Regions from separate parts of the Homo sapiens genome. Here region 1 is linked to region 2. Evidence: fine-mapped expression QTL. A gene starts in region 2. The other region holds a variant in brackets. All regions are shown on one strand. Distances are from middle to middle.

Region 1 (15,659 bases), 31 kb before region 2:
TGGGAGGCCAAGATGGGAGGATCACTTGATACCAGGAGTTTGAGACCAACCTGGGCATTATAGCAAGATCCTACCTCTTAAAAAAAAAGAAAAAGAAAATTAGCTGGGCATGATGGTGCATGCCTGTAGTCCCAGCTACTTGGAGGTGAGGTGGGAGGATCATTTGATTCCAGGAGTTCAAGGCTGCAGTGAGTTATGATCATGCCACCATGCTCCAGCCTGAGCAACAGAGTGAGACCCTGACACTAAAACCACCAAAACCAACCAACCAAACAAACAAAAAAAGAATGCTGATAATGAGATCCATATTGCAGAGTTATTGTAAAGATTATGATATTGTAAGTGAATCTTCCAGGCACAAAGTTGGTGTTTAATAAATGCCAGTTTCCTTCTGTCTGACTGTAGACTTAACTGTAATTTTGAGGCTCCTGGAGGAAAAAGAAAATGTTTCAGGGATGGTACAAAACTAGAAGATGAAACTATAGTGAACATTTATTATTCTCTTTGGTAGCCCAGCTCCGGAACGCCTTTCCCATGTTTGGTGTGTTTTCTACCTAATGAGTTTTGATGGAAGTGAAGGCTGTTATTTACCTCTGGAAGCTAAAAATACCAGCTCCCTGGTCATCTCAGGTCAGTCCCAGGGGGACTCGGAGTCTCTCTGTGTAGTCTTCAAGTCTGGTTTTCTAGCCCCCCGCTCCTCCAGAGATTCTGTGAACTATAAATATCCTTAAATAACTTTCTCTCCTGCTTAAATCACTTAGAGTTGGTTTCCGATGCAACTAAAAACATCAACTGATATGAGGTCCAAAAGATGGAATTTTAAGCACCAAAGACGCTCCCTTATGGGCAAAGTCTCAATAGGACATCTGCATGTTCAGTTGAGATTCTGCTTTCCCCTCAGATGACAGAATTATTGGCAACCAGTTAAATTGACGCAATTGGAAACCCAGAAACATGATCAACAAAGATAAGGAGATGGAGATACCAGTCACCCCTATCAAAGTGGCAAGTGGGAGGGGGATGCTGGTTGGTCTGTCGGAGCTGACGAAGGAATGGGATTGGAATGTTTCTTTTACCAATTATGTAAACACAGCCTGGAGTTCCGAGATGAGTCCATCTCACTTGCTCAGAACTTTGCCTGGTGAGAGCGGTTACAAGCGAACAAGGTGGAAATGAAAGAAACCCTGACTTTCCCACTAGGAAGGAAGAGACTGTTCCTTCTTGTGATGTACTCTGAAGAAAAATTCTAGGATTTGGACAGATTTCTTGGGTTATAAAACATGATTTTCTTCTCTGTTTCTTGGGCTTTTATAATGGGTACTGTTGTTTTCTTGCAAAGCTTTAATGATTCCATAAGGACTTGTATAAAGTTTATGGGAGAATTTTCAATGTAGATGTGAATGGCAGAAACCCAAGAATCTGTGTGAGGTTGAATAAGATCCTGTGTCTCCAGAGAGGTCTGATGGGGAGACACAGATCTAAATTTTAAAGGTGGTTTGGGCCTTCTCAATCATATATTAAGGTCCTTTTATGTTATAGATAAGTAAATTAAGGCCCAGAAAGATTAATAGCCCAAGGTCCCAAGACCTGCTTGAGACCTGTGCCCCATTTCTGACTAATATTCTTCATGATATTGTATCACTCTGTATCAAAACCAACCAACCAATAAAACCAACCAACCAACCAACCAACAGAAAACATTCAGGAGAGTGAAAATGCCGTCTGTGCAGACAGATTTTCCTTATTTTAGGAAATGGTTGGAGTCAGTGCATTTGAAGTTCAATGAGTGAGCTTTATCCTAAAAAAGCTGCTTCCAGGCCTGATATGTTCCCTGAAACATAAGGACATTCCTCATTCAAGGCTGTTTGCAAAGATCTAAATGAAGGCTGTTATTAAACAAACAAAACCCCAACCTCTCACTAATGTCAGAAATCAGAAAATGAATTATCTAAGTATTGTCTACTGACTAGCTAGCACTATGCAGGTATGAGTATCAGAGTTCTTCTCTGCTCTGTAAGCTATAATCCTCCAGGCTCTTTAGCCTAGGGGTAGAAAATGGAGTCCTCACCAGGCGCGGTGGCTCACGCCTGTAATCCCAGCACTTTGGGAGGCCTAGGTGGGCAGATCATGAGGTCAGGAGTTTGAAACCATCCTGGCCAATATGGTGAAACCCTGTCTCTACTAAAAATACAAAAATTAGCCAGGCGTAGTGGCGCCTGCTTGTAGTCCCAGCTACTCAGGAGGCTGAGGCAGAAGAATCGCTTCAACCCAGGAGGCAGAGGTTGCAGTTAGCGCAGATCCTGCAGCTGCACTCCAGCCTGGGTGACAAAAAAAAAAAAAAAAAAAAAAAAGCAGTTCTCTTACCAAGCAGTAGTTCTCTTCTTGCTTTGCTTCCACTTCCCCCTTTGTGATGAGAGTCCTTGGCAGTGGTGTTGATAGGTGTCCCCTAGTCTGGTCCTCTTATCCGTACCCTCAAGCCCTCCATCTCCAAATTCCTGCTCTAAGACTTCAGCTTGTCACCAGGTGCTTCCTGCTGATATCAGCAGAAGACGCATGGCTGCTGGTACCCGCCAGCATCCATGCTAAGGTGGCCAGTGCCCATTGCTGACAACTTTTCTATCTGTGCCAAGGGTACTGCTTCCAGTAGCAGCCAGCCCCATTTTGGAGTCATCACTGGTTGCGGTCTAAGCTTCTGGAACCCAGGCTGGGATATCTTAGGCAATAGCTTTGGTTGGCTTCCTTCAAAAGCCATTGCAGCCCACTTGGCCCAACTCACTTGATCCCCATTTAGACTTGGGACCTTCTAGGTTACCAGTTGAAGGACAGTCTTGAAGACAGACATTTGATGGTGCTCATATCATCCCTCAACCTCTTTGTCTTGGCACCAAACTGGGTTGCCTTATACAAAGGTGTTCAATATTTTGGCTTCCCTGGTCCACATTGGAAGAAGAAGAATTGCCTTGGGCCAAACATAAAATATACTACCACTAACAGTGACTTATGAGCTAAAAAAAAAAAAAAAATCACAAAAAACCTCATAATGTTTTAAGAAAGTTTATGAATTTGTGTTGGGCTGCATTCAAAGCCCTCCTGGCTGCATGTGGCCTGTGGGCTGTGGGTTGGACAAGCTTGCTCTGGAATAATCCAACTCTTATTTGCTGGGGGACTTTCAGCAAACAGCTTACCCATTCTAGATCTTATTTTCTTGTCTGTAAAATACAAATAATACTTGACTCATTGGGTGGTTTTGAAAATTAAATGAGATCAAATATTCCATGTGACAGGCATGGAGTAAATATTCGGTGAGCACAAGTTATTCCTAGGAAAGTCCTCAGCCCCTTAACCAGCTTTTGAAACACATCTAACTCCTAGAATCATTTTACTGTTTTTTACATATTTGTTTGCACTTATTGAGTGCCTTCTGTGAGGCAGAGATAGTGCCGAGTACCTGGCATTCATTATTTCATTTATTTCTCACAATGGCTCTGTGAGATAGGTACTACTAAAGCCTTGTGTTAAGGATGAGTAAGGTGAAATCCACTGAGATCAAGTGGACTTGCCCAAGGACATCCTTCTCTCAAGTGGTAAAGTTGGAGTTTGAACCCAGAAAAAAACAAACTCCAAAGCTTGTGACCTTGACCGCACTGATTGATATATTATCATTCCAAGGTGAAAATAGCTTAGTCTCAAGCTAGTCCCTTGTGGCAAGGTTCTTGTGTGTGTGTGTGTGTGTGTGTGTGTGTGTGTGTGTTTGGACAATTATTACTGGCAAAAATTCTGAAATGCCATAACCAAGAAATCCCCAAAGCCAGGGCTGCGGTCCTTTAGCTGTCTGGTGTGTTCTGTTTGTTTGTCCAGGAATGCTGGGACCCAGGTGCCTCTCTCATTCCCTGATTCAAGCTGGGAAAGGCATGTGGCCCTGGGAGAAAGGGTGTTTTTTCTTTATGCTTTCACAAGACTGGCCTGGGCCCTTCCCTTTTATATCAAAGGTACCACATCTTATTTTAAAAATTTTAAAAAACTTTATAGAGACACAATGTTGTTTTTGTTTATTAAATTGTCATGCTTTGATTTGTTTGTTTGTTTTGAGACAGGGTCTTACTCTTTTGCCCCGGCTGGAGTGCAGTGACACTATTAGGGCTCATGGCAGCTTGGAGCTCCTGGGCTCAAGCGATCCTCCTGCCTCAGCCTCTGGAGTTGCTGGGACTACAGATGAGTGCCACCATGCTTGGCTAATTTTTAAATTTTTTGTAGAGAAGGGGTCTCACGTGCCCAGGGCTGGTCTCGAACTCCTGGGCTCAACTGATCCTCTCACTTTGGCCTCCCAAAGTGCTGGAATTATAGGCATGAACCACCATGTCTGGGGAGTATTGTTTATTTTTGATACTTTTTTGTTTTGATATAATTTCTGACTTATAGAAAAGTTGCAAGAATAGTACCAGGCATTCCCATATAACCTGCTCTCAAATTCACCAATTGTTCACATTTTGTCCCATTTGTTTTCTCTTTTTCACTCACTTGCTCTCTCTGCATTTTTTCTAAGCCATTAAAAAGTTAGTTGATGCCTGTAGTTCCAACTACTCGGGAGGCTGAGGGAGGAGTCTCACTTAAGCCCAGGAGTTTGAGCCCAGGCTGGGACACATAGTGAGACCCCATCTCTTAAAAAAAAAAGCAAGTTGAAGCCATCATGCCCCCTTATTCCCAAATACTTCAGTGTATGTTTCCTAAGGACAACCATATAACCATAGTAGTTATCAAAATCAAAAAAATTTTACACTTGATACTAGACTATTACCTAATGTATAGTTCATATTTAATTATTTTTTCAATTATCACAATAATGCCCATTACAGATGTTTTCTGGGTCCAAAAACCACTTCAGGAATACATACTGTTTTAAATTATCAGGTTTCTTTAATTTTCTTTAATCTGGAACAGTTTCTCAGCCTTTCTTTGTTTCTTTTTTTAGACAGAGCCTCACCCTGTTGCCCAGGCTGGAGTGCAATGGTGCAATCTCAGCTCATTGCAACCTCTGCCTCCTGGGTTCAGGTGATTCTCCTGCCTCAGCCTCCTAAGTAGCTGGGATTACAGGTGCCTGCCACCACGCCCAGCTAATTTTTTGTATCTTTAGTAGAGACAGGGTTTCACCATGTTGGCCAGGCTAGTCTCGAACTCCTGACCTCAAGATCCGCCCGCCTCAGCCTCCCAAAGTGCTGGGATTACAGGCGTGAGCCACTGCACCTGGCCCTCTTTGTGTTTTTTTTATCTTGACATTTTGAAGATTAAGACCAGTTATATGGTATAATGTACCTAAATTTGGACTTGTCTATTATTTTCTCATGATAAAATTCAGGTTCTGTATTTTTGACAGAAATACCACTGAAATGATACTGTGTCCTTCCCAGTACATCCTATCAGTGGACACAGGATGTCAGTTTGCTCTAGTATTGGTGAGATTAGCTTTGGTTTCTTGCTTTTTCTCTACTATAAAGTTACTGTTTTGGGCTGGGCACAGTGGTTCATGCCTGTAATCTCAGCACTTTGGGAGGCTGAAGTGGGAGGATCACTTGAGTCCAGGAGTTCAAGACCAGTCTGAGCAACAAAGTGAGACTTCGTCTCTACAGAAAAATTTAAAATTGGCTGGACATGGTGGTGTGCACCTTTAGTCCTAGCTACTGAGGAGTCTGAGGTGGGAGGATCTCTTGAGCCTAGGAGTTCAAGGCTGCAGTGAACCATGATCATGGCACTGCATTCCAGCCTGGGCGACAGAGCAAGACTGTCTCAAAAAATAAATAAATAAAGTTACCATTTTTCCCTTGTAATTCATACATAATTTGTGATAGTCTTTTTTTGTTTCAACTTTTTCTTCTGTGCCAAAATGTCCACAGCAGCTCTAACATTAGACCTAAAGCAGGAACTGAGCTGGTTCTAAAAGAAAATCCCAGTCTCCTCCTCAGCCAAATGTCTTCTTTCTCTCCTTTATTTTCTCAGTGGTTTTTTTTTTTTTTTTTTTTTTTTTTTTTTTTTGAGACGGAGTTTCTCTCTGTCACGCAGGCTGGAGTACAGCGGCATGATCTCAGCTTACTGCAACCTCCGCCTCCTGGGTTGAAGCAATTCTCCTGCCTCAGTCTCCTAAGTAGTTGAGATTACAGGCGCCCACCACCATGCCCGGCTAATTTTCTGTATTTTTAGTAGAGATGGGGTTTTGCCATGTTGGCCAGGCTAGTCTCAAACGCCTGACCTCGGCCGGGTTCGGTGGCTCACGCCTGTAATCCCAGCAGTTTGGGAAGCCGAGGCGGGCGGATCACCTGAGGTCGGGAGTTCAAGACCAGCCTGACCAACATGGAGAAACCCCGTCTCTACTAAAAATACAAAATTAGCTGGGGTGGTGGCACATGCCTGTAATCCTAGCTACTCAGGAGGCTGAGGCAGGAGAATCGCTTGAACCCGGGAGGCGGAGGTTGCGGTGAGCCGAGATCGCGCCATTACACTCCAGCCTGGGCAAGAAGAGCGAAACTCCGTCTCAAAAAAACAAAAAGAAAAACAAAAACAATTAAAAAAACGCCTGACCTCAAGTGATCCACCTGCCTCGGCCTCCCAGAATGCTGGAATTACAGGCGTGAGCCACTGTGCCTGGCCTATTTTCTCACCTTTTAATTGAAGTATTATATACACACATCTTTTTTTTCTCTCTGAGACGGAGTTTCACTCTTGTTGCCCAGGCTGAATTGCAATGGTGCAACCTTGGCTCACTGCAACCTCTGCCTCTAGAGTTCAAGTGATTCTCCTGCCTCAGCCTCCCGAGTAGCTGGGATTACAGGCAAGTGCCACCATGCCCAGCTAATTTTTGTATTTTTAGTAGAGACGGGGTTTCTCCATGTTGGCCAGGCTGGTCTCAAACTCCTGACCTCAGGTGATCCACCCGCCTTAGCCTCGCAAAGTGCTGGGATTACAGGCATGAGCCACCGTGCCCAGCCATACACACATCTTATGTTTATACAAATCTTAAGTGTACAGCTTAAAGAATTTCTACATAGGTATATACCCCTGGAACCACCACCCAAATCCAAGATACAGAGTATTTCCAGCTTCCTAGCTGAGTTCGTTGTGTACAAAAATTAGCTGGGTGTGGTGGTGCACACCTGTAGTCCCAACCTCACTCAAGAGGCTAAGGCAGGAGAATCACTTGAACCCTGGAGATGGAGGTTGCAGTGAGCCGAGATTATGCCACTGCACTCCAGCCTGGGTGACAGAGTGAGACCTGCCTCAAAAATATAAATGAATAAATAAATAAATAAATAAATAAATAAATAAATAAATAAAGCTGTCCGGGCACAGTGGCTCATACCTGTAATCCTAGCACTTTGAGAGGCTGAGGTGTGCGGGTCGCTTTAGGTCAGGAGTTCAAAACCAGTCTGGCCAACATGGTGAAATCCCATCTCTACTAAAAATACAAAAAAATTAGCCATGCGTGGTGGCGGGTGCCTGTAATCCCAGCTACTCAGGAGGCTGAGGCAGGAGAATCACTTGAACCCGGGAGGTGGAAGTTGCAGTGAGCCGAGATCGTGCCATTGCCCTCCAGCCTGGGTGACAGAGCAAGACTCTGTCTCAATAAATAAATAAATAAATAAATAAATAAATAAATAAATAAATAAAGCTACTATCAACATTTTTTCTACATTTTTTTGCACACAAGTACTCATTTCTGTTGCATATCCAGGATGAAATTACTGGGTCCCCGTCCTCTCCTTCACTGACGAACTTCTTGAAAGAATGGCCTATCCTCTTACTGTTGCCACATCCTCATTTTCCATGGATTTCTCATCAAATTGTGCCTGGCTTCTGTCTTCCACTCCCTTCCTGTTGACATTGCTCCTGCTCTTGCCATTAATGAACTCCCTCTGGCTAAATCCAGGGATCCTTTTGGATTCCACTCCATTGGACCCATCGGCAGCATTTGATAATGCTGACTTCTTTGACTTCTGCACCATGACTCTTGTTGGGTTTACCCCACCTCTCTTCTTGCTCCTCATCAGTCTCATTTGGAAACTCTTTATTCTATGCCTGCCTATTAAATGTTGGTGTTCTCAGGGTCTAGTAGCACAGGGAAACTTCTCATTCTACATTAAAGGCCTCACATTAGTGGCCTACAC[C/A]AGACCTGTTTTGCTTGGCCCCCATAGTGTTTAAATAACGTTTACTATGAAAGTCTTTCAAGAAGGCAGATATTATTTTGAATTCTCACTGCACTAACCACCACTCTTTATAGTTCTGATTTGAGCTACTTCACTCATCTGAATTATTTTCTTGGTCCCTGAAAGCAACTTAGTTTGCAAACTTTTCTCTAATGTTTTCCTCCAGTGATGTCATTCTATTCCACAGGCTCAATTGCACATTGCTGACCCCTTCCAGATTCAAATCTTTAGTTTCCTCCTTTCTCTGATGCTCCAGACCTATATTTTTAACCCTTTGCTGGACATCTCCATTTGGACATTTCATGGACTTCTCACATGCATCATGTCCACATGAACTCACCATCTTTCCCTCCAGGCCTGGCCCTTTCCTGCACTCACTGTTGTGGTGAATGGCATCCCTATCCCTGCAGGCTCTCAAGCTTGGTGTCAGCCTCCATTCCCTTACCTTCTATATCTAATAGGTCATCTGATATCACTGCTTCCCTCCCCTATATATTTTCCCAATTGATCTCTTCTTCTCCATTGCTATTGCCATTGTCTTAATTTCTCTTCTTCTCTTGCTTGGATCATTCTTCATTCCACAAATATTTATCAAGTGCCTACTATGTGTTGGGCAATGTTCTAGGCACCAGGGTGAGAACAAGAGGCATAAAATTAACACGTCAACAAATACATACCCAAGAGAGCTTTAGGTAGTCATCAGTGTTGAAGACTAACTGGGCAGGGGGTTGAGAACAGGGCTATCTGAGATTGGGTAGTCAGAAAAGGCTTCTTGGAGGAGGTGATTTTTGAGCTGACACTTGAATAACATTGACAAGGAGTGAGCCCCTCAGAGGTCTAAGTGCAGAGTTCTCCAGGAAGGGGAAAAGCAGGCACACGAGACTGAAGGCAGGAGAGAACTCAGAGCGTTTGAAGGACAGCGAGATGGCCGTTGTGGCTGGAGCAGAGGGAGTGAAGGGAGAGGTAGAGCAGGGGCCAGATCACAGAGGTTGCACAGAACCTCACAGTCCATAGGAAGTGTTTTGCATTTTTATTCTTGGAAAGTTTTGAGCAAGGACGTGATCTGCCCTGATTGATATTATCAAAGGACACTCAGGGCCGGGCATGGAGACTCATGCCTGTAATTCCAGCACTTTGGGAGGCCAAGGCAGGAAGATTGCTTGAGCTCAGGAGTTCAAGACCAGCCTGGGCAATATAGTGAGAGCCTGTCTCTACTCTATTTTCATATAAATAAATAAATAAATAAATAAATAAATAAATAATTTACAAAGACCACTCAGGCTGCCGTGTGAAGAATCAACAGTAGGAGGTCAGAGAGATAGGCTGGAAATGTTTTAGACTGTCACAGCCAAAGTCAAACATTCAAGTGCAAGTAATTTATTGGGAAACACCAGTAAAGACATAGGAAAGTGGGACAGGGAAGGAAAAGCAGCCATTAAGACATGCATTATCAAGCAAGTTACCACTGTGGTCAACTGTAGCTTAGTTTTCCTGGGGAACCTTGAAGGCCCATGTAGAAATGTTCCTTCAATTGACCTTGTCCTAGGGATGAGGAAGGTGGGGTATTTACAGCAACTCCTTCAGTCATTGGCTGGGGGCTGCTGCTGGGGCAGCTAGAGGGGCTGTGAATTCTCCTGCATCCTGCTGTGTGAAGAGGGGGTGGGGTCCCGTCACCACAGAAAGCCCACAGGCAGAGAGATATAGACATGGCCTGCAGTGGGAAGGCCTGGGAGAGGTGGTGAGCATGGCAGAGGGTACTGCAGCCATCTGGGCACACGGCACCTTGCCTGGGTGCATGGGAGGCAGGTGGTGCATGGAGAGGCAATCAGTGCCGAAGCATGTGTTCGTCGGGGCCACAGCAGCCATTTGTGAGGCCATCCCTTTAGAATCCCTCTGGATGCCTGGAAGTGACTGGAAGGTGGGGCAGGAGTATCTGCAGGGGCCTTGTGGCTCTGAAGGAGTTGACAGGGATAAGAACCAATGAATGAAATGTGTGTGACGATTATTCATACGCTGCATTTTTTTTCCCATCTTCAGGCCTGGGAGTTGCATTTTGATTCTGTTCCTCTCTGTGACTGGCCTGTCTGTCATGCTCAGACCACACCATCATACCCAGTATGGATTTCTGAACACAGACTCCAATTCACCTCCCCAACTTCTGACCTTAGCTCAGTCCTCTGAACCCAAAGTCCCATGTGTGTCCCTGCAGACACCCCATTTCTCTATCATCTGACCCAGTCGTGACCTGCTAGCACATTGCCCTGTCTGCCTCATCTTGCCAGCCTGGCATAACTCCCAGAAAGGCTGCCCTTGGCTTGTCCTATTTTCTTTCTCTCCCTAATTTGACACTGACATTGACAGATAAAGACAAGGGAGACAGCCAAACCCCAGGGCGTAACCGGTAGATATCACTCAAACACTACCAAATTAATCCTCAGGATCTGGGATCATGCCTGTCTGAAATGTTAATCTCCACCACTTGGTACAGAATAGAGAATGACTTTTGAAATTGCCTTGTAGAGGAGCCATTGCCCAACCAGAAGATCCCAATCTCTAGACCCGGGGGCCCCGTTTCTGGGGAGGATAGAAAAAATTTGATATCAAGAAGGAGCAAGGAAAGATGGAAGGAAAACATCAAGCTCTAGCAAGTTTAGATTTGTGTACATCACAGTTTTACCCTAGCATGCATGGCCCATGGCCTGTTTGAGATGTTCCTTATTACAAGAGGAAGTCACACCTGGGGGTGTCTTCCTATATGTTTATGATCCCATACCTGTTACATTGGAATTATTTTCCACCCAAATAAAAGCAGTCACAGTTAGAAATTCCTTGACTCTTAATTTTATTTTATTAATTTTTTATTTTTTAATTTTTTTTTCACTTTTCAAGACGGGGTCTCACTCTGTTGTTGCCCAGGCTGGAGTACAGTGGTGCAATCATGGCTCACTACAGCCTCGACCTCCTGAGCTCAAGCAATCCTCCCACCTCAGCCTTCCCAGTAGCTGGGACTACAGGCAAGTGCCACCATGCCCGGCTAATTTTTGTATTCTTTTTATTTTATTTTTTTTGAGACAGAGTTTTGCTGTTGTACAGGATGGAGTGCAGTGGCGTGATCTTGGGTCACTGCAACCTCCACCTCCCAGGTTCAAGCGATTCTCCTGCCTCAGCCTCCTGAGTAGCTGGGATTAGCCAGGCGCCCGCCACTGTGCCTGGCTAATTTTTGTATTTTTAGTAGAGACAGGGTTTCATTATGTTGGCCAAGCTGGTCTCAACTCCTGAGCTCAGGTGATCCACCTGCCTCAGCCTCCCAAAGTGCTGGGATTACAGGCGTGAGCCACCGTGCCCTGCCTAATTTTTGCATTTTTTGTAGAGATGAGGTTTTGCCATGTTGTCCAGGCTGGTCTCAAACTCCTGGACTCAAGTGATCAGCCTGCCTTGGCCTCCCAAAGTGCTAGGATTATAGGCATGAGCCACTGCACCTGGCCGGATTTTAAACATTATCATGGCACTCTATTTTACTGAATATTAAATTTCCAGCATGGTTTTGAAAAGGAAAAAAGAACACCTGCTGTGGGAGAGGATTCCCGCTAACTGCAAACTGATATGGGAGCTGCCTGAATGCTGTTAGGTGGCCGTAGTGTAAGTAGGATTTGGGGGCCCCTAAGAGAGCTAGTGGACACAAGGGGGCATCCCTGGAGTTCTGGACTTGACCAAAATTGGGCAACTTCCCACTTGCTGGCTGCCTGCCCTGAGCAGTAATGACTGGCCTTGGGAGAAGCACCCGTGGTCTTACGGCCTCCTTTTATTCTCATGTATTTTTCTAACAAGCCTTGTCTAAACGCAAATGTGATTCCAGCTTTTTGATTAGAATATTATATAGTCATCCATTCCAGGAAAACCACAATTAGCACATGATTTTATTTCTGACTTGCTGTTTCTTTGTTTGGAAAGTTCGTTAGTTGTACGACGCTCCTGATAGAAGTGCGTAGAAGCAGCCATTCTTTGTGTGTGGGGAGGGACCTCCGCCAAGTTTTCTTAGATGGAAAGGTGTTGGCTTTTTCTTATCATGGGGAGATGGTGGAGTAGAGGGGGGAGTGTGGTGGGGGTGTGATATTCTACCCTAAAATATTTTTCAAAAATATACTGGCAACTAAATCTGGCCATGTTTGTGGGATTGGGTGGAGTTTTCCTTAAAGTGATAGGGCAGGGCACACTTTATCTCAAGGTTTTAACTGGAGTTGACACTTGGGAAGACATTCTCTTGGGTAATACATGCTGCAGAGACCACTCATGGGCAGCCTGATTCAGAGAGGCAGTTACTTGCCTACTGGCATACCACAGGCTGGCTGTGTGACCTTCGGCAATTTACTTAACCTCTCTGGATCACTATTTCCTCATCTAAATAAGATTACCTAACTCTTAGGGTAGTTGGGGGATTAAATAAAATCAGTAAATATCAGTTAATATTTATAAAGTGCTTAGGATAGAGCCTGGTTTCCAGCACATTGCATGAATGCTATTATATTATCCTTTCCTGCCTCTGCTAACAGAAAATGCCTTTCTAACAAACGCTTGTTAGAAAAGAGTCTACTGCCTATTGCGTTCCTATAAATGGCAGGCACTGTGCTAAGTACTTTATAAGCATTTAGCTTGTTTAATACTCAAGGATACAAAGTAGTGTTATGATCTCTGTGACGGTTAGTTTTCTTAGTCAACTCTGTTAGGCTATAGTACCTAGTTATGTAATCAAACATGAATCTAGGTGTTGCTGTGAAAGCATTTTGTAGACATGGTTACCATCTACAAGTCAGTTGACTTCAAGTAAAAGATTTCAGATTTACTGGCCCCCTCAATCATGTAAGCCAATTACTTAAAACATATCTTTTATTTTAAAAATGTGGGCCGGGAGTGGTGGCTCATGCCTGTAATCCCAGCACTTTGGGAGGCCGAGGCAGACGGATCACAAGGTCAAGAGATCGAGACCATCCTTGGCAACAAGGTGAAACCCCGTCTCTACTAAAAATACAAAAATCAGCTGGGCGTGGTGTAGCGCACCTGTAGTCCCAGCTACTCAGGAGGCTGACGCAGGAGAATCGCTTGAGCCTGGGAGATGCAGGTTGCAGTGAGCCGAGATTGCGCCATTGCATTCTAGCCTGGCAAAAGAGCGAGACTCCATCTCAAAAAAAAAAAAATGTTTGTATGTGTGTATGTGTGTGTGTGTACACTTATGAGGAAACTGATGATCAGAGAAACTAAGTAATTGCACAAGGTCATACAGCAGGATTTTGAATCCGGGGCTCTGTCATTACAAAGCCTGGTTTCCACCGTGGGATCTGTCTCTCTTGTAACATTTCAGTTGCAGCTGAAGGGACCTCGATTTCAGCCTGTTTATGGAGCATGTGCTGCTTTCTCACTTCAAACTCTATAGAAGTGCAATTCCTCTGACCATGTGGTCTGTTCTGTATTCTGGTGGCATTTGGAGGAAAGCCTGGAGTGAGGAGCAGGGGAGAAAGGAAGGGAAGGAATAAGAATTTTATCAGTGGGGTTTTTGGTTGCAAGCAACAGAAATGGACTCTCACCGACTTATAACCAAAGGAAAAGATTAGAAGAATATTGTTGATGTGGGGCAGCTCACAGCAAAAAGCACTCTGTGGGCTGCCCCTGTCTATACTAGGACAGGGAGAGAGGAGCTGGGCTTATCCAGGGAGAGGTGCTAGGAGTTACCAACTGCAGAAAATGAGGGAGGCTTTATTTCCCAAAAGGAAATTGGGATGCTGTTCTTTTTTCTTTGAGACAGGGTCTTGCTCTGTTGCCCAGGCTGGAGTGTAATAGCACAAACCCCACTCACTGCAGTCTTGCCTTCCTGGGCTCAAGCAATCCTCCTGCCTCAGCCTCTAGTGCAGTTGGGACCATAGGTGTTCACCACCACATCAGGTGATATGGTTTGGCTCTGTGTCCCCACCCAAATCTCCTCTCTAATTGCAGTCCACACGTGTTGAGGGAGGGACCTGTCATCCCTATACATCCCTATATATGGAGGGAGGGGAGTGATTGGATTATGGGGATGGTTTCCCCCATGACAGTGAGTGAGTTCTCATGAGATCTGATGGTTTTATAAGGGGCTCTTCCCCCTTCCTCCTCACTCTTCTTTCTCCTGCCACCTTGTGAGGAAGGATTTTTTTGCTTCCCCCTCCACCATGATTGTAAGTTTCCTTAGGCCTCCCCAGTCATGTGAAACTGTGAGTCAATTAAACCTCTTTTCCTTTATAAATTACCCAGTCTCAGGTAGTATGTCTTCATAGCAGTGTGAAAACAGACTAATACACCAAGCCATTTTTTTTTTTTTTTTTTTTTTTTTTGTAGAGACGAGATCTCACTATGTTGCCCAGTTTGGTCTTGAACTCCATGGCTCAAGTAATCCTCCTGCCTCAGCTTCCAAAAATGCTGGGATGACAGGCATAAGCCAACATGCCCAGCCTGGGATACTATTTTGAAGGGAAATGGATGCTTGACAAATGCCAAAATGATAAATGACCACTATCACAGTAAAGATTCTTGGTTTGGATCCCATTTTGCAAAATAATTCAGAACAGGCCCATGACCAGTACCCAGAAATGGCACTTAGGACTTGTGAGGCCATATGGAGCACATCTCTCAGCTTTAGCTTAAGATTTTTGGCTGTAGGCAAAGACTCCTTTTATGCAAACATTCCCATGTGAAACATAAATAGCCATCATAATAACGAATCTCCATTGAACACTGGCTGTATGCTGGGCACTGTTATAAGTGCATGGCTGGATGCTCGTCTCGTTTTTCCACCAACTCCATGACGTAGGTACAATTTTCACCACCATGCTATGTATGAGAACACTGAGGGCCATGGAGGTTAACTTGGTTAACTCACTCATCCACATGGCCAGTGAATGGCAAGCAGTACACAATGATGTCTTTTTACAATTCGAATTCTAGAATGTTAAATAGCACTGGGGACTGTCTATAATCGCAAACAGCAAAGGTCCTAGAGGCAAGCCTTCCTCCTAGCTGGAGAGCTCGCAGAGTCTGATGCTAGCTTGATAAAGATTCTGCCTTGATGTCTGATCTGAGGTGTTCAATTCCATTTTCTTAATGGCTGTCAATCAGTTCCCCACTGTGTCCCCTGAGGCTGGACCCAGCAGGGGTGTCGTCAGCACTTAGGAATATCATTAAGAACAAAGCCTGATTCGGGCTGTTTGTTTTTCCCCAGTGAGATTGCCCACCCCTCAACACAGTCAGGAATGAGCTCAGATGTCGCTCAGTGCTAAATGAATTGCTTCTGAAAGCACTGGGCTTTCCCGAGGCACCCGAGTCTACCAGAGCGAACAGAAATGACATATGAGTTCCAATGTCTGCAATCACTTTTGCTTCCAGGTGCTTCACCGGCAATGTCTGATGGAAATATAATGTAAACTGCCTTTGTCATTTTAAATT
Region 2 (15,659 bases):
GCACCACCAAGCCCAGCTAATTTTTGTATTTTTAGTAGAGACGGGGTTTCACCATGTTGGCCAGGCTGGTCTCGAACTCCTGATCTCGTGATCTGCCAGCCTTGGCCTCTCAAGGTGCTAGGATTACAGGAGTGAGCTACTGTGCCCAGTCTCTTTTTCTTTTTTTGTTTTAAATTGAGGCAGGGTCTTCCTCTGTCACCCAGGTTGGAGTGCAGTGGTGCAATCACAGCTCACTGCAGCCTTGACTTCCTAGGTTCGAGTGATCCTCCCACCTCAGACTGCTGAGTAACTGGGACCACAGACATATGCCACCACGCCCAGCTAAATATTTTAATTTTTTGTAGAGACAAGAGTCCCACTTGGTTGCCCAGGCTGGTCTTGAACTCCTGGGCTGAAGTGATCCTTCTGTCTCAGCCCCGCAATGTGCCGGGATTACAGTCATGAACCACCTTGCCCAGCCAGAAAAGCCTTTAATTTTAACATTGAACAATGTATGGCAAGGAAGAGGTTAATCAGGTGACTAACTCACTTTACAACATTTTAAGGGACAGAAAATGAGCTATTACTTGTGACAACATGGAAGTCATTGAAAACCTTGTTAAGCAGTTTCAGTGGCACGAGATGGAAACCAACTGTATTGGCTGACGGGTAAATGGGGGAATGGTAAGTGAGAAATTAAGGCTTCCCTTGTAGACAACTCTAATGACGGCTTCTTGTCACTTAGATCTCAGTTTAAATGTCACCTCTTTGGAGTGATCTACAGTAGCCATCTGGTGAAGACCACATGACCACATTTTATTTCTCTGCAAAGCACTCACTTATGACCTGATCATGTCTTCTTTCTTTCTTTGTTTTCTCTGCTCCTAAGACACCACACATGCACACTGATCAAATGGGTTTTATTTATTCTGTCTCCCCAGAACCTAGAAAACTGCTTGGTACCTGGTAGGTGTTCGTTTTTTGAATGAAAGGATAAAATCTTGGCTATAAGGGAGAGTAGAGAAATAGAAATCTATCTGGTAGGGGATATGGAGCAATCTCATATGGGTGTGGGATGTGGATATGTGTGCTTTCTGTTAATTTGTTTTAATGGGAACCCCTAGCCCATTGCTTGTCTGACTTTGATGTGCCTGGGAACCATCTTGGGATCTTGCTAAATGCAGATTTTGATTCTGCAGGCCCAGGTGGGAGATTCTGCATTTCTAACAAGCTCCCAGGTGAGGCCCAGGCTGCTGATCCATGAATCCCATTTTGAGTAGCAAGTCCCTCGATCACATTGGTATGTTGCTTAGAATGAACAGGTGGAAAGGGGGTGATTAATGAAGCAGGAGAGAGGGGATAACTCTAGGAGCAAAGATTTGAGGAACACACAGGGATTGAATCCAGGGAACCAGCAGAAGGACCGTTTTTTTTTCTTTTTCTTTTTTTTTTGAGATGGAGTTTTGTTCTTGTTGCCCAGGCTGGAGTGCAATGGCGTGATCTCAGCTCACCGCACCCTCTGCCCACCTCAACCTCCACCCACTGCAACCTCCGCCTCCTGGGTTCAAGCGATTCTCCTGCCTCAGCCTGCCCAGTAGCTGGGATTAAAGGCATGCGCCACCATGCTCGGCTAATTTTGTATTTTTAGTAGAGATGGGGTTTCTCCATGTTGGTCAGGCAGGTCTCAAACTCCTGACCTGAGGTTATCTGCCTGCCTTGGCCTCCCAAAGTCCTGGGATTACAGGCATGAGCCACCGCGCCCAGCCAAGGACCGGTTTTTCAAAGGCAGAAGGAAACTTTCCACAGCATATCAGGAAAGAAGGGGAAGGAGTGAGAAGAAGATCTGATGATGTCTATCTTTCAGTGAGGTCCTCTGCTGAGACTGAGGGTGGAGGTGGGGTGTAGGAGTTCTGAGAAACAGAGTTATTTTCTTCCCAGGCAACATCCATTATGCCTTTGAGGATTGGATCATAAATTTAAAGTAAAACCCATCAGCTCTGTTGTGTAATTTTCTCAGCATTAATCTGCTTGGGTGCAGGTTGGAGAAGGAGGATGGTAGATTCATCCAGAGTGAGTGTGACAGAGGCCAAGAGGAACCAGGGAGTTGAGGGTGTTGGTAAGAGAGTGATTTTAATGGTGGACCACAGGAAGTGAGGCCTAGGCACTGGGTGGGATACTGCTACTCAGTCCCAGCTCTCACTCATGGGGCTCTAGTGCAGAGAGAGATATGACTGATATAATAACACAAATGCATATCTATCTACATGTACCCACACATATATATGTATGTATTATGTGTAAATGTCCATGTATATGTAACTACCACAACTGTCAGTGCCCCACCCTTTCGCCTTACCACTGCAGTATACCCGGCTGATTTCCAACTGCCAGCATCTGTATCTCTTTGCCTGAGATCATGGCAGGCTAGAAGTACCAGGGAGTTAGTGCCCCCGAGAGCACTGTGTGACCTGTAACAAACAGGAATTGGTGTATAAATACCCCAGGGTGGGATAACCAAGGTGTGGGTTCCACACTGTTTCCCCAGCAGGACGAAGCTCAGTGGTCCCTGGTGGTAACTTGCTTGGGAAGGCTCTCTTCACAGGCTGCCTTCTTTTCCTTGCCTCACTTCCCCGCTTCCTTCCTTCCTTTCTTTCTTTTCTTTTCTTTCTTTTTTTTTTTTATGATGGAGTTTCACTCTTGTCGCTCAGGCTGGAGTGTAAGGGCGCACTCACTACAACCTCCGCCTCCTGGGTTCAAACGATTCTCCTGACTCAGCCTCCTGAGTAGCTGGGATTACAAGCTATCACCACCATGCCTGGCTAGTTAATTTTTGTATTTTTAGGAGAGATGGGGCTCTCATCATGTTGACCAGGCTGGTCTTGAACTCCTGATCTCAGGAGATCCACCCACTTTGGCCTCCCAAAGTGCTGGGATTACAGGTGTGAGCCACTGTACCCAGCCTCACTTCCCTATTTTCTCACTTAGTGTTTTCTAGAACCACCTTTCAAATGAACTAGTTGTTCTCAAATCCTTGCTTTGGGGGCCTCTCTGGGGGGAGTCCAAATTGGGGTATATGTAACTATAAATTGTGATGCATGCCATGGAGAAAAGTACAGTCTACTCTTTGGGTGGGGGGACCTGCTCCATTATGGGGTGGGAATGTGGATGTCAGGGAAGGCGAGGAAGAGATCTATTAGCTGGGATCTAAAGGAGGAGCAGGGCAGAAGGACACGATACAATGAGTGTCTGAAAGGCCACTGTGGCTGCTACAGAGGACGGGGACATGGATGGAAGCTTAAGAGGCCAGACCCTGGAGGGCCTCATAGGACATGGTAAGGAGTTTGGCGTATGTATTCAGAGAACACGGAGAAGTCATTAAGGGGACTACAGCAGGACAGCGACAAGACTATACCTGTCTCTAACCATAGTGGAGAAGGACAGGAGAGCCCGCATGGCAGGGATAGAGTTCAGAGGCCTCCGCTATGACCCAGGGTCTTGCATGGAGTTTTGCACATGAAGGAGTCTCAACAGATGTTTGCTGAAGTGGAAGGTAACTATTAACCATGTAGTTGACTGACCAGAACACCCAATTTCCTGGCCAAGCCGATAAATGATTTCCCTTCATTAACGTTGCCTTTTTTTTTTTTTCTGGGCTGCTACACTTAAAACTCTATCATCCCTTTCTCTTGGGGACAGCATCAACAGGATAACTCCCTTCTACTTTTACTTATTCTCCACTTCCCTCCTTTTCACTTTCTTCTTTCTCTCCTTCTCCTCTTCACCCCTTTGTCTCTCCTCTTTCTTCAAATAATCCTATTTAATAAAGTTGATTATTTCTTACCGTCTCCATTCCTATTAATGGTGGCATGTAATTCTTGTCTCTGGACATCTCAAGACACTGCAGATATAGTCAGTGGAAACAGAATTACACTTTGTGAGCAAGGTAATTTTAAGTGGATCTTTAGTCAAATGCTGTCAAAATGCAAAAAAGAAGAATGTTCCCAAGCGCATTCACTCCTTTGGTAATATTGCCACATACACATCCAGCATGCACTTGAAATTTTTATGAAAAAGAAATTCCATTCCAAAGGTGATTCATACAAAACATTATGTGTATGTGTGTATGTTATTTACAATTTGAAATCATGAGACATAGAACATATTTTCAAGAGATAAAAAAAGTGGGGACATATTCAGAGATAACATACATCTGATCACCAATGTGGTTTCACATGTGGTCACTGTTAATAAATTACTACAGAACACACTAGAAACAGAGAATGACATATACCAGTCAGCAAAGTTGGATTTATGGTGCTGCAGAAAGTAACATAGTATGGAGGACCAGGAAGGCTGAAACCCAGCCCATAAATTAATCTCCAAGTGTATGTTGTAAATAGTCACAATTGTACCCTTTTTCCTCTTGTGTTCCCTTTTATAAAAATATTGAAATCCTTGCTCATCCCTTTCTTTTGCCCAGCAATTAAAGAAAAACAAACTAGATGTCTGAGATTTCACATAACCTTTCATACCCAATATTTTTATTGTCTTAAATCTTGAGTAGTCAGCAAGAGTTGTGTTTTGCAATACGCTGGGGTAAGGAAAATCTGTTCACCCCATTTTCCATTTTCGCCCCTGGTGTCCTCTTCTGGCATATTCACCCATCACCCCATGGCCCTCACCCTGTGTTCTGGCAGGATTTGAGACATGCAAATTGCAAGCTGGTAAATAGCAGCTTTGCATATTTTGAATAGAAGAGAACAACGTGGTACCACTCATTCTGTTCTCAGGGAAATCTGAGATAATAGGGAGCAAGATCGAGGGCAGACCGAGGGTCTTAAGTATTTTCTTAAAAGTGTTTATTATGCTTATTAAACCTATTGTACACTGATGAATTAATTTGAATTATTTACATGGTCACCCTTGGAGACAATAACCTGATTTAATCAGAGGATGCAAACGTTATCATTTCTCTTTGAAATCTAAAAACAGGTTTAAACTGGAAACGTCAGGACTTCTTGTATCTTTCCCTACAAATACTGGTTACAAATCTGCAGTTGTCAGGCTAAATGACATAATGTCAGAAATCAAGAGAATGTGGTGTATTTCTTAGGAAAGTCAATAAACTCCCCTGTGCGAACATGTCCCCTGGACAGTGGGTGACTAATTTCTCAAGTAAAAGGTCTTTCTATTTTGTTTATCTGTAAATATCATGCACTGTCTGACATAAGGGGGTTCATCTGCTAAAATTTCAGTGTATAGGAAAATGACATGGTAAAAATGGTTGGGGTTTTATCAGATTATGAGACTGGTGTCATTTTAAGTGAATGTTTGGACTAGTAAAAATTATTTCATTTTACTATTGAAGCTGTAAGAACCTAAGGTTGCTGTCAAGTTGAAAGGTTCAAATTCAATTATTTTCAAATCTAGGTTTCCATTGTGACTTGGAAAAAAAATTAGAGATTATTGTTCAAATCTCTCCTACTTTGGATTTTTTTTTCTTAGTATTTGGATGTTTATAAGAAATTGTTGTGAAAGTTAAAATCTTGTGCGTTTGTAAAATTGGAAGAGGCACAAGTGATTCTGAAGGTGGAGCCTTTCAGAGGTAAAGCAAACAGCTTGCATCTTCAATATTTTATGAGATCTAGGTATTAGAACCATGTTTCTGATGCAGGAATACAGCTATCTAGGAACAAAAGGGAGATGAGACTACAGAACAGACTGTGAAATTTCTTAAAATTATTAAATGATCCTAAGACTGAGCACAGGAGTGGATGATGTTACTGCAGATTGTTCTTAATAAGGGCTTTAAAAGCTTAATGATTTATTGATTGGCTCTGCATTAATGACGTGCCCTTGATTATGCATGTGTAAATAAGAGGGCTGATTTATGAGGGTACAATTGTATCTTTCAGATATATTTGTCCAAGTCTACATCTTTAAAATAAATGGAAGCAATTATCTGAATATTTCAAGGGAGGGAACCCCACCTTCCCATCCCCCACCCCCGATTTGAGGGAAGTCTAGTATGTTAGGTGAAGAGAAAAAAAAAGAAAAGAGGAAGCTCTAAAGGGAGTTAGGAACAAAACAAAACTTCCGTTAAGAAATATCCCTGCTTCTCTTATCCTAAGAGAAGAAAAACAGATTCCCAGGTGCCACCGGGGAGCAATGTTTTACTTAAAAAAAAAAAAAGAAAAAGGAAAAAGAAAAACCTGTAAGAAGTTGTCCTGTTAAATCAACGACACATGGAGTCTGAAGGAAATCAGCCTTTTCGTTACAAACAGGTTTAAAAAGCCCTGGAGAAGAGAGACGTGAACAGAAGCAATATTATCCACTAACAACCTAACTCCCGCTTAGACATCAGCTGAGAGATCAGCAGCATCATTGAACAGGGGGGTTTGTCTTAAGATAATGACTCATCTTGATTTCTTTCAGGATATAAAACTTGTATTTAAATCAATTCAGAGAAGCACTTGAGCTTTAAACATTAGAGAGCAGGGAGAGCCTATTTAATAAACAGCATTATTTCATTTTCAAAGAATGATACTGGCAGTAGCTCTAAGTTTAAATTTTGTATTATTTTCCTCAATTATAATTATAGATGGGTCTGAAAGGAAGCATGCTTATTACTGTCATATTTATTCTTTTGACAGGTGTTATGGGACTGTAATTTGGTGAAATGATTCAAAACGCAGATTCCTATCCAAACACAATTCTTGTCATCAACACGAGAGGTTCAGGAAAAGTCCTCCAGCAAGCCTTTCAGAGATCTTGAACACCCCATATTCATAGCACAATCCATATTCAGGAATAAGGAGGAGAGAGTGCCTTTAGGGCTTATATCCGGCGTAGCAACAGCCAGAAGGCAGAGTGGGTGTTTGAGGTAACAGGTAACGAAGGCTGTTAGTGGGGACAGCTTTCAACTGGGTGGGGTCGGATCTAGGAAGAGGCACCCAGTAGGACCCCGAGTCCCGCGCGCGGCCGGCAGAGGGCGCTGGGCTCACCGTCGCCGGGCAGGGGCGGTGCCGCTCAGTCCCCGGGGCGCAGGCGCACTCGTCGCCGCGGCGGCGTCCGGGGCTGGCGTTCCCCTGGAGGCTGGTGAGCCGCGCTGCGCAGGCCGAGGCCGAGGGCGGGGGCGCGGGGGCAGCGGCGGCCGGAGCCACTGGGTGGCGGGGGCGGGCTAGGGATGTGGAGGCCTCGGGTGTCCTCGGATCTATTGAAGACCTAGGGGCGACCCGCGCCGGCACCTTTTCCCTTGCGGTCTGCGCTCTTCCACCGGAGAGCTGAGTGCACCGGAGCGCGGCGCCCGGGCTTGACGCAGGCCTGGCCGGGCGGCCTCGGAGGAGCAGGAAAGGCCTGCAGCGCGAGCTAGGGGCGCGAGGTCCGGGGCAGCCCGGAGGCCAGCCTCTCAGAGGCTCACGGGCCTGGCCACTTTTAAAAGGAGAATGTCCCCTCCACCGTCCCTCTGCCCGCGGCACCCGGTGGCCGGAGCAACCTTGTCGTGATGATTTATGCTTCTGCGTAAGAGCAAGTTGCTCCGTGGCCAAAACCCTTTCGCTCCTAGGATTGATCCTTTTTGTGGTTATTGTTTTAAAAAGTTTTATTGAGATATAATTCACGAAGCATACAGTTCACCCATCTAAAGTGCACAATTCAGTGTCTTTTAGTGTGTTTGCAGAGTTGTGCAGCTGTCACCATAATGTTTTAGAACATTACCCCCCAAAAGAAACACCTCCTTTAGCTGTCACTCCCCCCTCCCATCTACTCCCATTCTCCCAGCCCTAGGCAACCACCAATGTACTTCTGTCTCTGTACTTTTGCCTATTCTGGATGTTTCGTATAAATGGAATCATACATTAAGTAGCCCCTTGTGACTGGGTTTGTTCACTTAGCGTAATGTTTTCTGGGTTCACCTGCCATAGGTTCTTGACTTCAGGACAGTTTCCTGCTGGCTTTAGTTTCCTCTGGTAACTTGGGAATCAATTGACATCTATGGAACTTCTGTTATGGTTCAGGTACTATAAACTGTGGAGGAGTGACTAATAACCGTATATATATTTTTCTTACTAATTTCCCTTCATTTCACAGGTGTTGAACTAATACAGTATAGTTTCTTGTTCTTCAGAAGCTTACAGTCAGCAAGGAACAGAAAGCCAAATAAAGTAGGAAAGGGTAAGATGTTCAACGCTGGGCGCAGTGGCTCATGCCCATAATCTCAGCACCGTAGGAGGCTGAGGAAAGAGGATCACTTGAGCCTAGAATTTTGAGACCAGCCTGGGCAACATAGTAAGACTTCGTTTCTATAAATAATTAAAAAAATTAGCCAGACGTGGTGGCGTGTGCCTGTGATCCCGGCCACTTGAGAGGCTGAGGTAGAATCGTTTGAGCCCGGGCAGTTGTGACTGCAGTGATCCCTGATCATGCTACTGTACTCCAGCCTGGGTGACAGAGTGAGACCCTGTCTCAGGACAAAAAAAAAAAAAAAAAGATGTTCAAGCACTTAAGATGTGCCAGCCCCTGTGCTAGGCACTTTCCATAAGTTAGCTAGGTTGGTCTTTACAAAACCCCTGTGAGGTGGGTTATTCTTTTCTCCAGTTTACAGTGGGGGAAGCAGAAGTCCAGAGAAGTCAACCAGGTTGGCCAGGATTACACAGCTAGTAGATAGCAGAGGTAGGCTTTTAAACTAGGGTTCTTTGTCTCCAAAACCTGCTCTAAGTTCTGTCACATCGATTATAATCACAATAAGTGATTACAGAGCAGTGTGATGACTGTAATAGGGGTGTGAACAGCATGGGATGAAAGCCTGAAGGAGGTGACAGGGAACTGGATCTCTAAGGATGAAGGGGAATTCTTGAGGCAGGTGAAGAAGTCAAGGTAGGGGAAAGCACAGCATGTTTCAGAGATGGTATTAACAATAACAGTTAGTAGGAAACATGTAGTGTGTGCCAGGCATCATGCTTAGTAGTCTAGGAGCGTTATTTCATCCTTACAACAGTCCTATGTAGGAAATACTATTTATTAGGGACCGCATTGACAGATGGGGAACAGACTTCGAGATAGAAGTTAAGAAACTCGTCCAGGGTCCTAGAACTAGCAGGTGATAGAACCAGGATTTGAACCCAGACTGTCTGATCCCAGAGTCCTCCAAGTTCAGTCTGTGGCTAAAATGCAGGAAGTGTGGGAAGGACAGCAGGAGGGGAGACTGATGAGAGGGATTGAAACAGATCTCAGAAGGCCATGGGTAGAGAACTCTCTACAGAGGTTCTGAGGAAGGGGAGTGACAGGGTGTGCTTTTTAGGAAGTGTTCTTGGGTGGCACCATGTGGATTGGGCTGGAAGGAGGGAGACAGATCAGGAGGTATTCGGATAGTCCCAGCCAGGTATGGGTACAAAGCTGGGAACCAAGGTAATGCCAACAGGGATGAAGGGGGCAGGGAGGGGGTGAGGGGACTTTAGAGCCTTGGCTATGTAGGAGAGGGACTGGGGGAGGCAGGGATTGCTGCCCCATTGCTAGCTTGGGAGAACACAGATGTGCAAGATGGAGCCCTGGAGTGGGTGGGGGTGGGAAGCAAAACCACTCCATTCCTATTTTTCAACTTTTCCCTTCAAGAAGAGTAATTGCATATTTAAAAAATGGCCTGTGCAGGCTTAATTTAGCGTGTATCAGTGCTCAATAGGGCATAATTTCTGGTTATTTTCTGCAGTTCCATTCTTTCGTCTTTTTTTAATATATGACTTTTTCCCACTTATTTTTAGGTGCCTATATCGGGACATAGATTAGGGAAAAGGACAGTGGGGTTAAATGGGACTGTGGGCCTGCTTCTCAACATCTGTGCCAGTGATAACACTTGGCTTCCAGGAAATTCCCTTTGTAGCTTTATTTTCTCTTTTTAAAAATTCTGTCATATTCTCCTTTGGATTTGGTAAGAGCTTTGTTGTTAAGCATTTCTTTAGTTGCTCCTTTCCTTTATCTGTGTAATTGATGTCAGCCTGGTGACTCTTTCTTTCTTTTGATTTTTTTTTTCCATCTATATGCAGGGGGAAGCTGCAGACGATGTCCTTGGGTTTCAGAAAGGCATGGAGCAAGGTTTTGTAGAGAAGATTGAGGAGTACTGGATAATAGTGCAGTCAAGTGCCTTTATAAGTGCTTGAACCTGGTCATGCATGAACCCTGCCAGAGTTCTTTGTGGGGTCCTTAGCCCTGATCTGGTCAGTATTTTTATGAGTGGCTCAGACATAGCAGGTAGATTCACGAAGCAGATAAGGGCATAGTCTTTGGAATCAAATAGACCTAGGTTCTATTCCGGGCCTTGCTCTATACTAGCCTTGTTGCTCTTGGCAAATTACTTAACCTCTCAGGGCCTCAGTTTCCTCATCTATAAAATGGGACTAATGATACCTCCCTTAAAATATTGTTGTGAGGATTAAATGAGGTAACATGAAAAGCTCTCAAACTTGGCATGTCCTACTCATTCCCTGGATGGGAGCCATCGGCTTTGCAGAAGGCTCTGGGTCAGAGAGCTAGGTACACCAGACTGTTCATCTCTGTGGTCCTAGGGCTGGGTCCAGAGTTGTACAGGTGCTAGATGCTCTGAATGGCATGGCGTAGTTGACTGATGCTTACAGTATATAGGGTTACTGTCTTTCTCTTTGTCTTTACCCTGTGTTTACCTGGGGTGTGACTGTTTCTGTGCTCTTATTTTGTTGAATTGAGTTGATATAACAGACCCCCCTAAGGATGGTGGCAGATTGTGACTCTGGAATGACCTCATAAAATAAAAGATGGGGAAAGAGACTTAAGAACAGCTCATGGAGCCGGGTGCAGTGGCTCACACCTATAATCACAGCACTTTGGGAGGCCAAGGCAGGTGGATCACCTGAGGTCAGGAGTTTGAGACTGGCCGACATGGCGAAACTCCGTCTCTACTAAAAATAGAAAAATTAGCCGGGCATCGTGGCATGGACATGTAATCCCAGCTACTGGGGAGGCTGAGGCAGGAGAATTGCTTGAACCCGGGAGGCAGAGGTTGCAGTGAGCCAAGATTGCGCCATTGCACTACAGCCTGGGGAACGAGAGCGAAATGCCGTCTCAAAAAAAAAAAAAGAAAAAAGAAAAAAAGAGCAGCACATGGAAAAATGCCTTTGAGCCAAATGCCAGGGCCACGTGAGGGCCCCAGCAGAGAAGCAGTCTGAGCTGCATTCCTTGAATTCCCAGGTCAAAGGAGGTGACAGGGCCACTGCCTGTGGAGTTGGTCAGAGCATGGCCAAACTGTTGTTTTCCCATGGGACAGCAGGTTTAAGAGTGGTATCAAAAATAAAGGTACGTGTGTTGAGAGGAGGGCAAGTGGGACAGAGACACTTTGAGAGGCGACAGCACCTCCCCGCTGCTTACATTGGAAAAGGGACTAGGGAGGGGCTGGGATAGTTGACTGTGAATAATGAAAAGCTGGGCTTGGGAGGAGGTGAGGGAAGATTTTGTCCCAAAGAGTAGAGCTCTTTGTGGAGTGAGTAGAACTTTACAGCGGGGAATTTTAACTCAGAACTGGAGGGACTTTCCAATAGCTTGAGCAGAGCGAAAATGGGGGACTTGTGAGTTTCCTGCCACTTGGAGCACATGTAGGGAGAAAAGCTGGGTGACTTCCTGCCAGGTGTGTTTTTAAAGCGATTTTTTATTAGGAAAATTTTCCAAATATATGGAAGTTAAAATAACAGCATGGTGTTCACCCTTAATGCCTACCATCTAAACGTGATCTGAACATTCTGCTGCATTTCTTCATCTTCCTCACTCTTCTCTCTGTGCTGTCTTTTGCTGAACTATTTGAAAGGAGGCTGCAGACCTGATGACATGTCACCTCTAAATCCTTCTGCCTGCGTCTCCTGAGAGTAAAGTGATTCTCCCACATAACCACATCGGTCTTATAACCCAAGAAAATTCATAATTCACACTATCGTTTCACATCCAGTGAAGATTTTCATTCAGGAAGTTGGTAAATCACTGTGACCACCATATGGAGAATGGCTGGTGGGGCCTGAGGGCAGGTGGATACCCTTCCAGCAACCCCAGCAAGAGCCTGAACTAGAGGCCTGACCTAGAGTAATGAGGGGTGATGAAGGCTGTTTCAAGGTAACCACAGGCCTCCCACTGAGCATGGTGGCACTGAGGAGGAGATGCCAGACCACAGAGCTGAGTGTGGAAGAGGCAGGAGGTATTCAGGAAGCAGAGAGGAGCACTGTAGGCAGAAGTAGGAGGATTCGTTCAAAATAGAAATTGAATGTCTACCAGGATAGTTAATTTTATGTGTCAACTTGGCTGGGCCACAGGAGGCCCAGGTATTTGGTCAAACATTATTCTGGGTGTTTCAATGCGGGTGAGATTAACATTTAAATTGTTCGATGGAGTAAAGCACACAGCCCTCTATAATATGGGTGAGCCTTTTCCAATCCATTGAAGGCCTTAAACGAAAAGTCTAAGCCTCCCCTGAGTAAGAGAATTCTCTTGCCTGTGGCTTTCAAACTGGGACATCAGCTCTTCCTGGTTCTACAGCAGCTTCCAGCCTTTGTGCTTGAACTGGGACATTGGCTCTGCAGATTTTGGACTTGCCAATCTCCATAATTGCATGAGCCAGTTCATGGTAATAAACCTCTGTCTCTCTCTGACACACACACACACACACACACACACACACACACACACACACACACCCTCCCTCCTATAGGTTCTGTTTCTCTGGAGAACCCCAATGAGTAAGTACATCTACTCCATGCCAGACATTCTGCCCCAGTGCTGAGACCATAACAGGCAAACACAGCATGGGCTGTTGTGGAGTGTGCCATACAGGGCTCAGTTTGCCTGGACTAGGCTGTGGGTGGTGAGAGGTGCAGATGAGGGGTAGGTAGGGGCCAGATCGAGAGGGGCCTTGCAGGCCATGGACAGGAGCCTGGATTTTATTCTGTAGACCAGTGCTTTCCACACTTCAGGACCCTCATGATTTTTGCCGGGTCCACATTTCAATTTGATACATAAAAAATCAGTTTTATGAGCATTTGAAAAAACTGCTTTAGGCCATTAATACCTATGAAAACGTGTTTTTCCCCCCTCATTACACATGAAAATAAATATAAAATCATTACAATAAAAAATACTGGCTGTATACTACTTAAAGTAATTTCAGGTATTTGTTCTACATTTTGGGAAAAGTTGCCATGAATGATGGGGGCAGGGGTGGATATTAGGGGTTTTAGGAAGGACAGGACACTTTGAGATTTATGTTTTAGAAAGATTCACTCTGGCTGTTGGGCAGAGAAGGATGGCAGAAAATGGACTGGAAGACAGGGAGACCAGCTAGGGGCTGTTGCAGTTGTCTCAGAGAGAGTCTGAACCAAGGGTATGCAGTGGAGTAGAGAGGAAGGGAAAAATATGAGGGGCATTCAGAGGTGGAATTTGATAGGAATTAGAAACCAGTGGCATGGGGCCGGGTGTGGTGGCTCACGCCTGTAATCCTAGCACTTTGGGAGGCCAAGGTGGGTGGATCACCTGAGGTCGGGAGTTTGAGACCAGCCTGACCAACAGGGAGAAACCCCATCTCTACTAAAAATACGAAAATTAGCTGGGTGTGGTGGCATGCACCTGTAATCCCAGCTACTCAGGAGGCTGAGGCAGGAGAATTGCTTAAACCCAGGAGGCGGAGGTTGCGGTCGAGATTGCGCCATTGCACTCCAGCCTGGGCAACAAGAGCGAAACTCTGTCTCAAAAAAAAAAAAATAAAAAAAGAAAAGAAAAGAAAGAAACCAGTGGCATGGGGATTGAGGAGAAGGAGGAACCTGGGTTGACTGTGATGATTTTGGTTTGGTTGCCTGGGAAGATGGAGGAGCCATCACAGAGGCAGGGAGCCAGGATGCAGAGGCCAAGATCAAGTCCAAAGGGCAGGGCAAGGGAGGCAAGTGTTGCCAGGCCCAGAGGCATTGACTGCAGTTTTAGCAATGATGCTGTGAGGTTCATTGCCCCTTAAATAATAGCAAACCTACGCTTTAAATTAAATTAAAACATTTTTAGTTTAGCTCTTCTAAGTGGACCCACACATGTATTCTCTACTAGTTATTACTGAGAATGACTAAGTATTATAATTGAGCTGAAAATAATCTGCCGCCCATACTTGCTGGGTTGGTTACTAAGTATTGCTTGAGTTTTTAAGTAATGAAACAAAGTTGTGCTCTTTCCAAATGTTAATTTTGAGGACTGCAGATGGTAACCATCTGTTCCGCGACTAGCATTTTACAATATTTGATTACTACTTTATATAGTTTGGGGAAGCCTGCCAGTGGAGTCTACCCATCAGGTTTGGGACTTTGGTGGTATGTCTCCTGTGGTTGCTCCTGATGGTCTTGGCCACCCTTGAACGGGTTCCCCTCTGATTTCTGGGTGGTGAGTCGGACTGGCATGGTCATGATTGATAGCAGGAGGAACTTGAGAAGCCCTGTCCTGTCCGACTCTGCCTTACAGCTGGAGTCATCAGATTGCATTGTGGAAGAATTTGTGAGGATCTGTCCATCAGTTAGTACCCTTTGAGATACAAGTGACAAAACAAACCCCAGCTGCTTTGGTGAAAGGGGATTAATTGGCCCAGATCATTGAGAAGTCTAGGGGAAGGACTTCCTTCAGGTAGATGGTTTTAGGGCCCAAATGAATTCTTTTTTTTTTTTTTTTTTTTTTTTTTGAGACAGAGTTTCACTTTGTGTCATCCGGGCTGAGTGCCGTGGTGTGATCACAGCTCACTGCAGTCGAGGCTGAAGTGATCCTCCCATCACAGCCTCTTGAGTAGCTGGGACTACAGGCGCATGCCACCATGCCCAGTTAATTTTTTATTTTTTGTAGAGACAGGGTCTCCCTGTGTTGCTCAGGTTGGTCTCAAACTCCTGGCTTCAAGCAATCCACCCATCGCAGCCTGCCAAAGTGCTGGGATTACAGGCGTGAGCCATCACCCCTGGCCCAAATACGTTATTTGGGCTTGTTTTTTTCTCAGGGTCTCAGCTCTGCCTTCTGCTATGTGGCTATGGTCTCAGGCTTCTAGAGGAGGCAAGGTGGCTTCACTGAGAGAGGATCAAATCCTCCCAGCATCAAGTTTAGTGGGAAGGAGCTAGAGTCCTTTCACGCCACTTCTGCAGAGGTGTTGCGATGCACTCTGGTTGGACTAGCTTTTGGCACGTGCCCGTGTGTGAGCTAGTCCTTATATCCATGTGGATGCAGGGCTCTGATAGTCCCACTCAGACCTTCTGGGCCAAGACCTGGGGAGGGGTGCACCCCAGATCACACATTGGGGCTGTTACTAGAAGGGAGAATAGATGGTGGGGGTCAGACAACCACCTATCCACTCCAGCATCAGAGCAAGAATCCAGGGAACCAGGAGGAATTGGCTAACGTAGCTGAGGAGACACATTTATTGTTGCCGAGGAGATAATGGGATGTAAATGGAATGAAGGAGCCTCTGGAACCAGCTACTTCCTAAGCTTCCCTTCTTAGTTTAAGGGCATCTGATAGATTTAGTTTCTGGTTCTTTTTGCAAGGTGAGGGGAGGGTTTTTTTTTTTTTCTTATATGTTCCTTTAAAACTAAGGCCAGTCACTAGATCTCTTTTAGCTCCTTCATCTGGAACATAAGGGGCATCTCTGTACAGAGGAGATAGTA

Direction of the effects. Alleles are on the strand shown, and positions count from the first base shown. SD is a standard deviation of normalised expression in the study named.
With allele A in place of C in region 1, the expression in testis of the gene that starts at base 7,029 in region 2 is higher (moderate effect, 0.55 SD a copy in GTEx).

Evidence for each region. PIP is the estimated chance that this variant, and not a neighbour inherited with it, causes the effect. A credible set is the group of variants that fine-mapping cannot tell apart.
Region 1: its variant is the best candidate, but not a certain one, in a credible set for the expression of LYRM9 in testis (GTEx, PIP 0.81).

Annotation. Positions count from the first base shown.
Region 1 is chr17:27,915,578-27,931,236 of GRCh38, reverse strand. LINC01992 (long intergenic non-protein coding RNA 1992) reads left to right here. Exons shown (of 5, transcript NR_146896.1): 4 at 512-630; 5 at 762-2,313. Among named protein-coding and RNA genes, the nearest start is that of LYRM9, 30 kb to the right of the region's middle. RefSeq lists an enhancer at 14,901-15,659. The variant C/A (reference allele first, on the strand shown) is at 8,154.
Region 2 is chr17:27,884,735-27,900,393 of GRCh38, reverse strand. It overlaps LYRM9 (LYR motif containing 9), which reads left to right and starts at 7,029. Exons shown (of 4, transcript NM_001076680.3): 1 at 7,029-7,077. RefSeq lists silencers at 6,848-7,397, 14,679-14,828 and enhancers at 10,408-11,359, 11,360-12,311.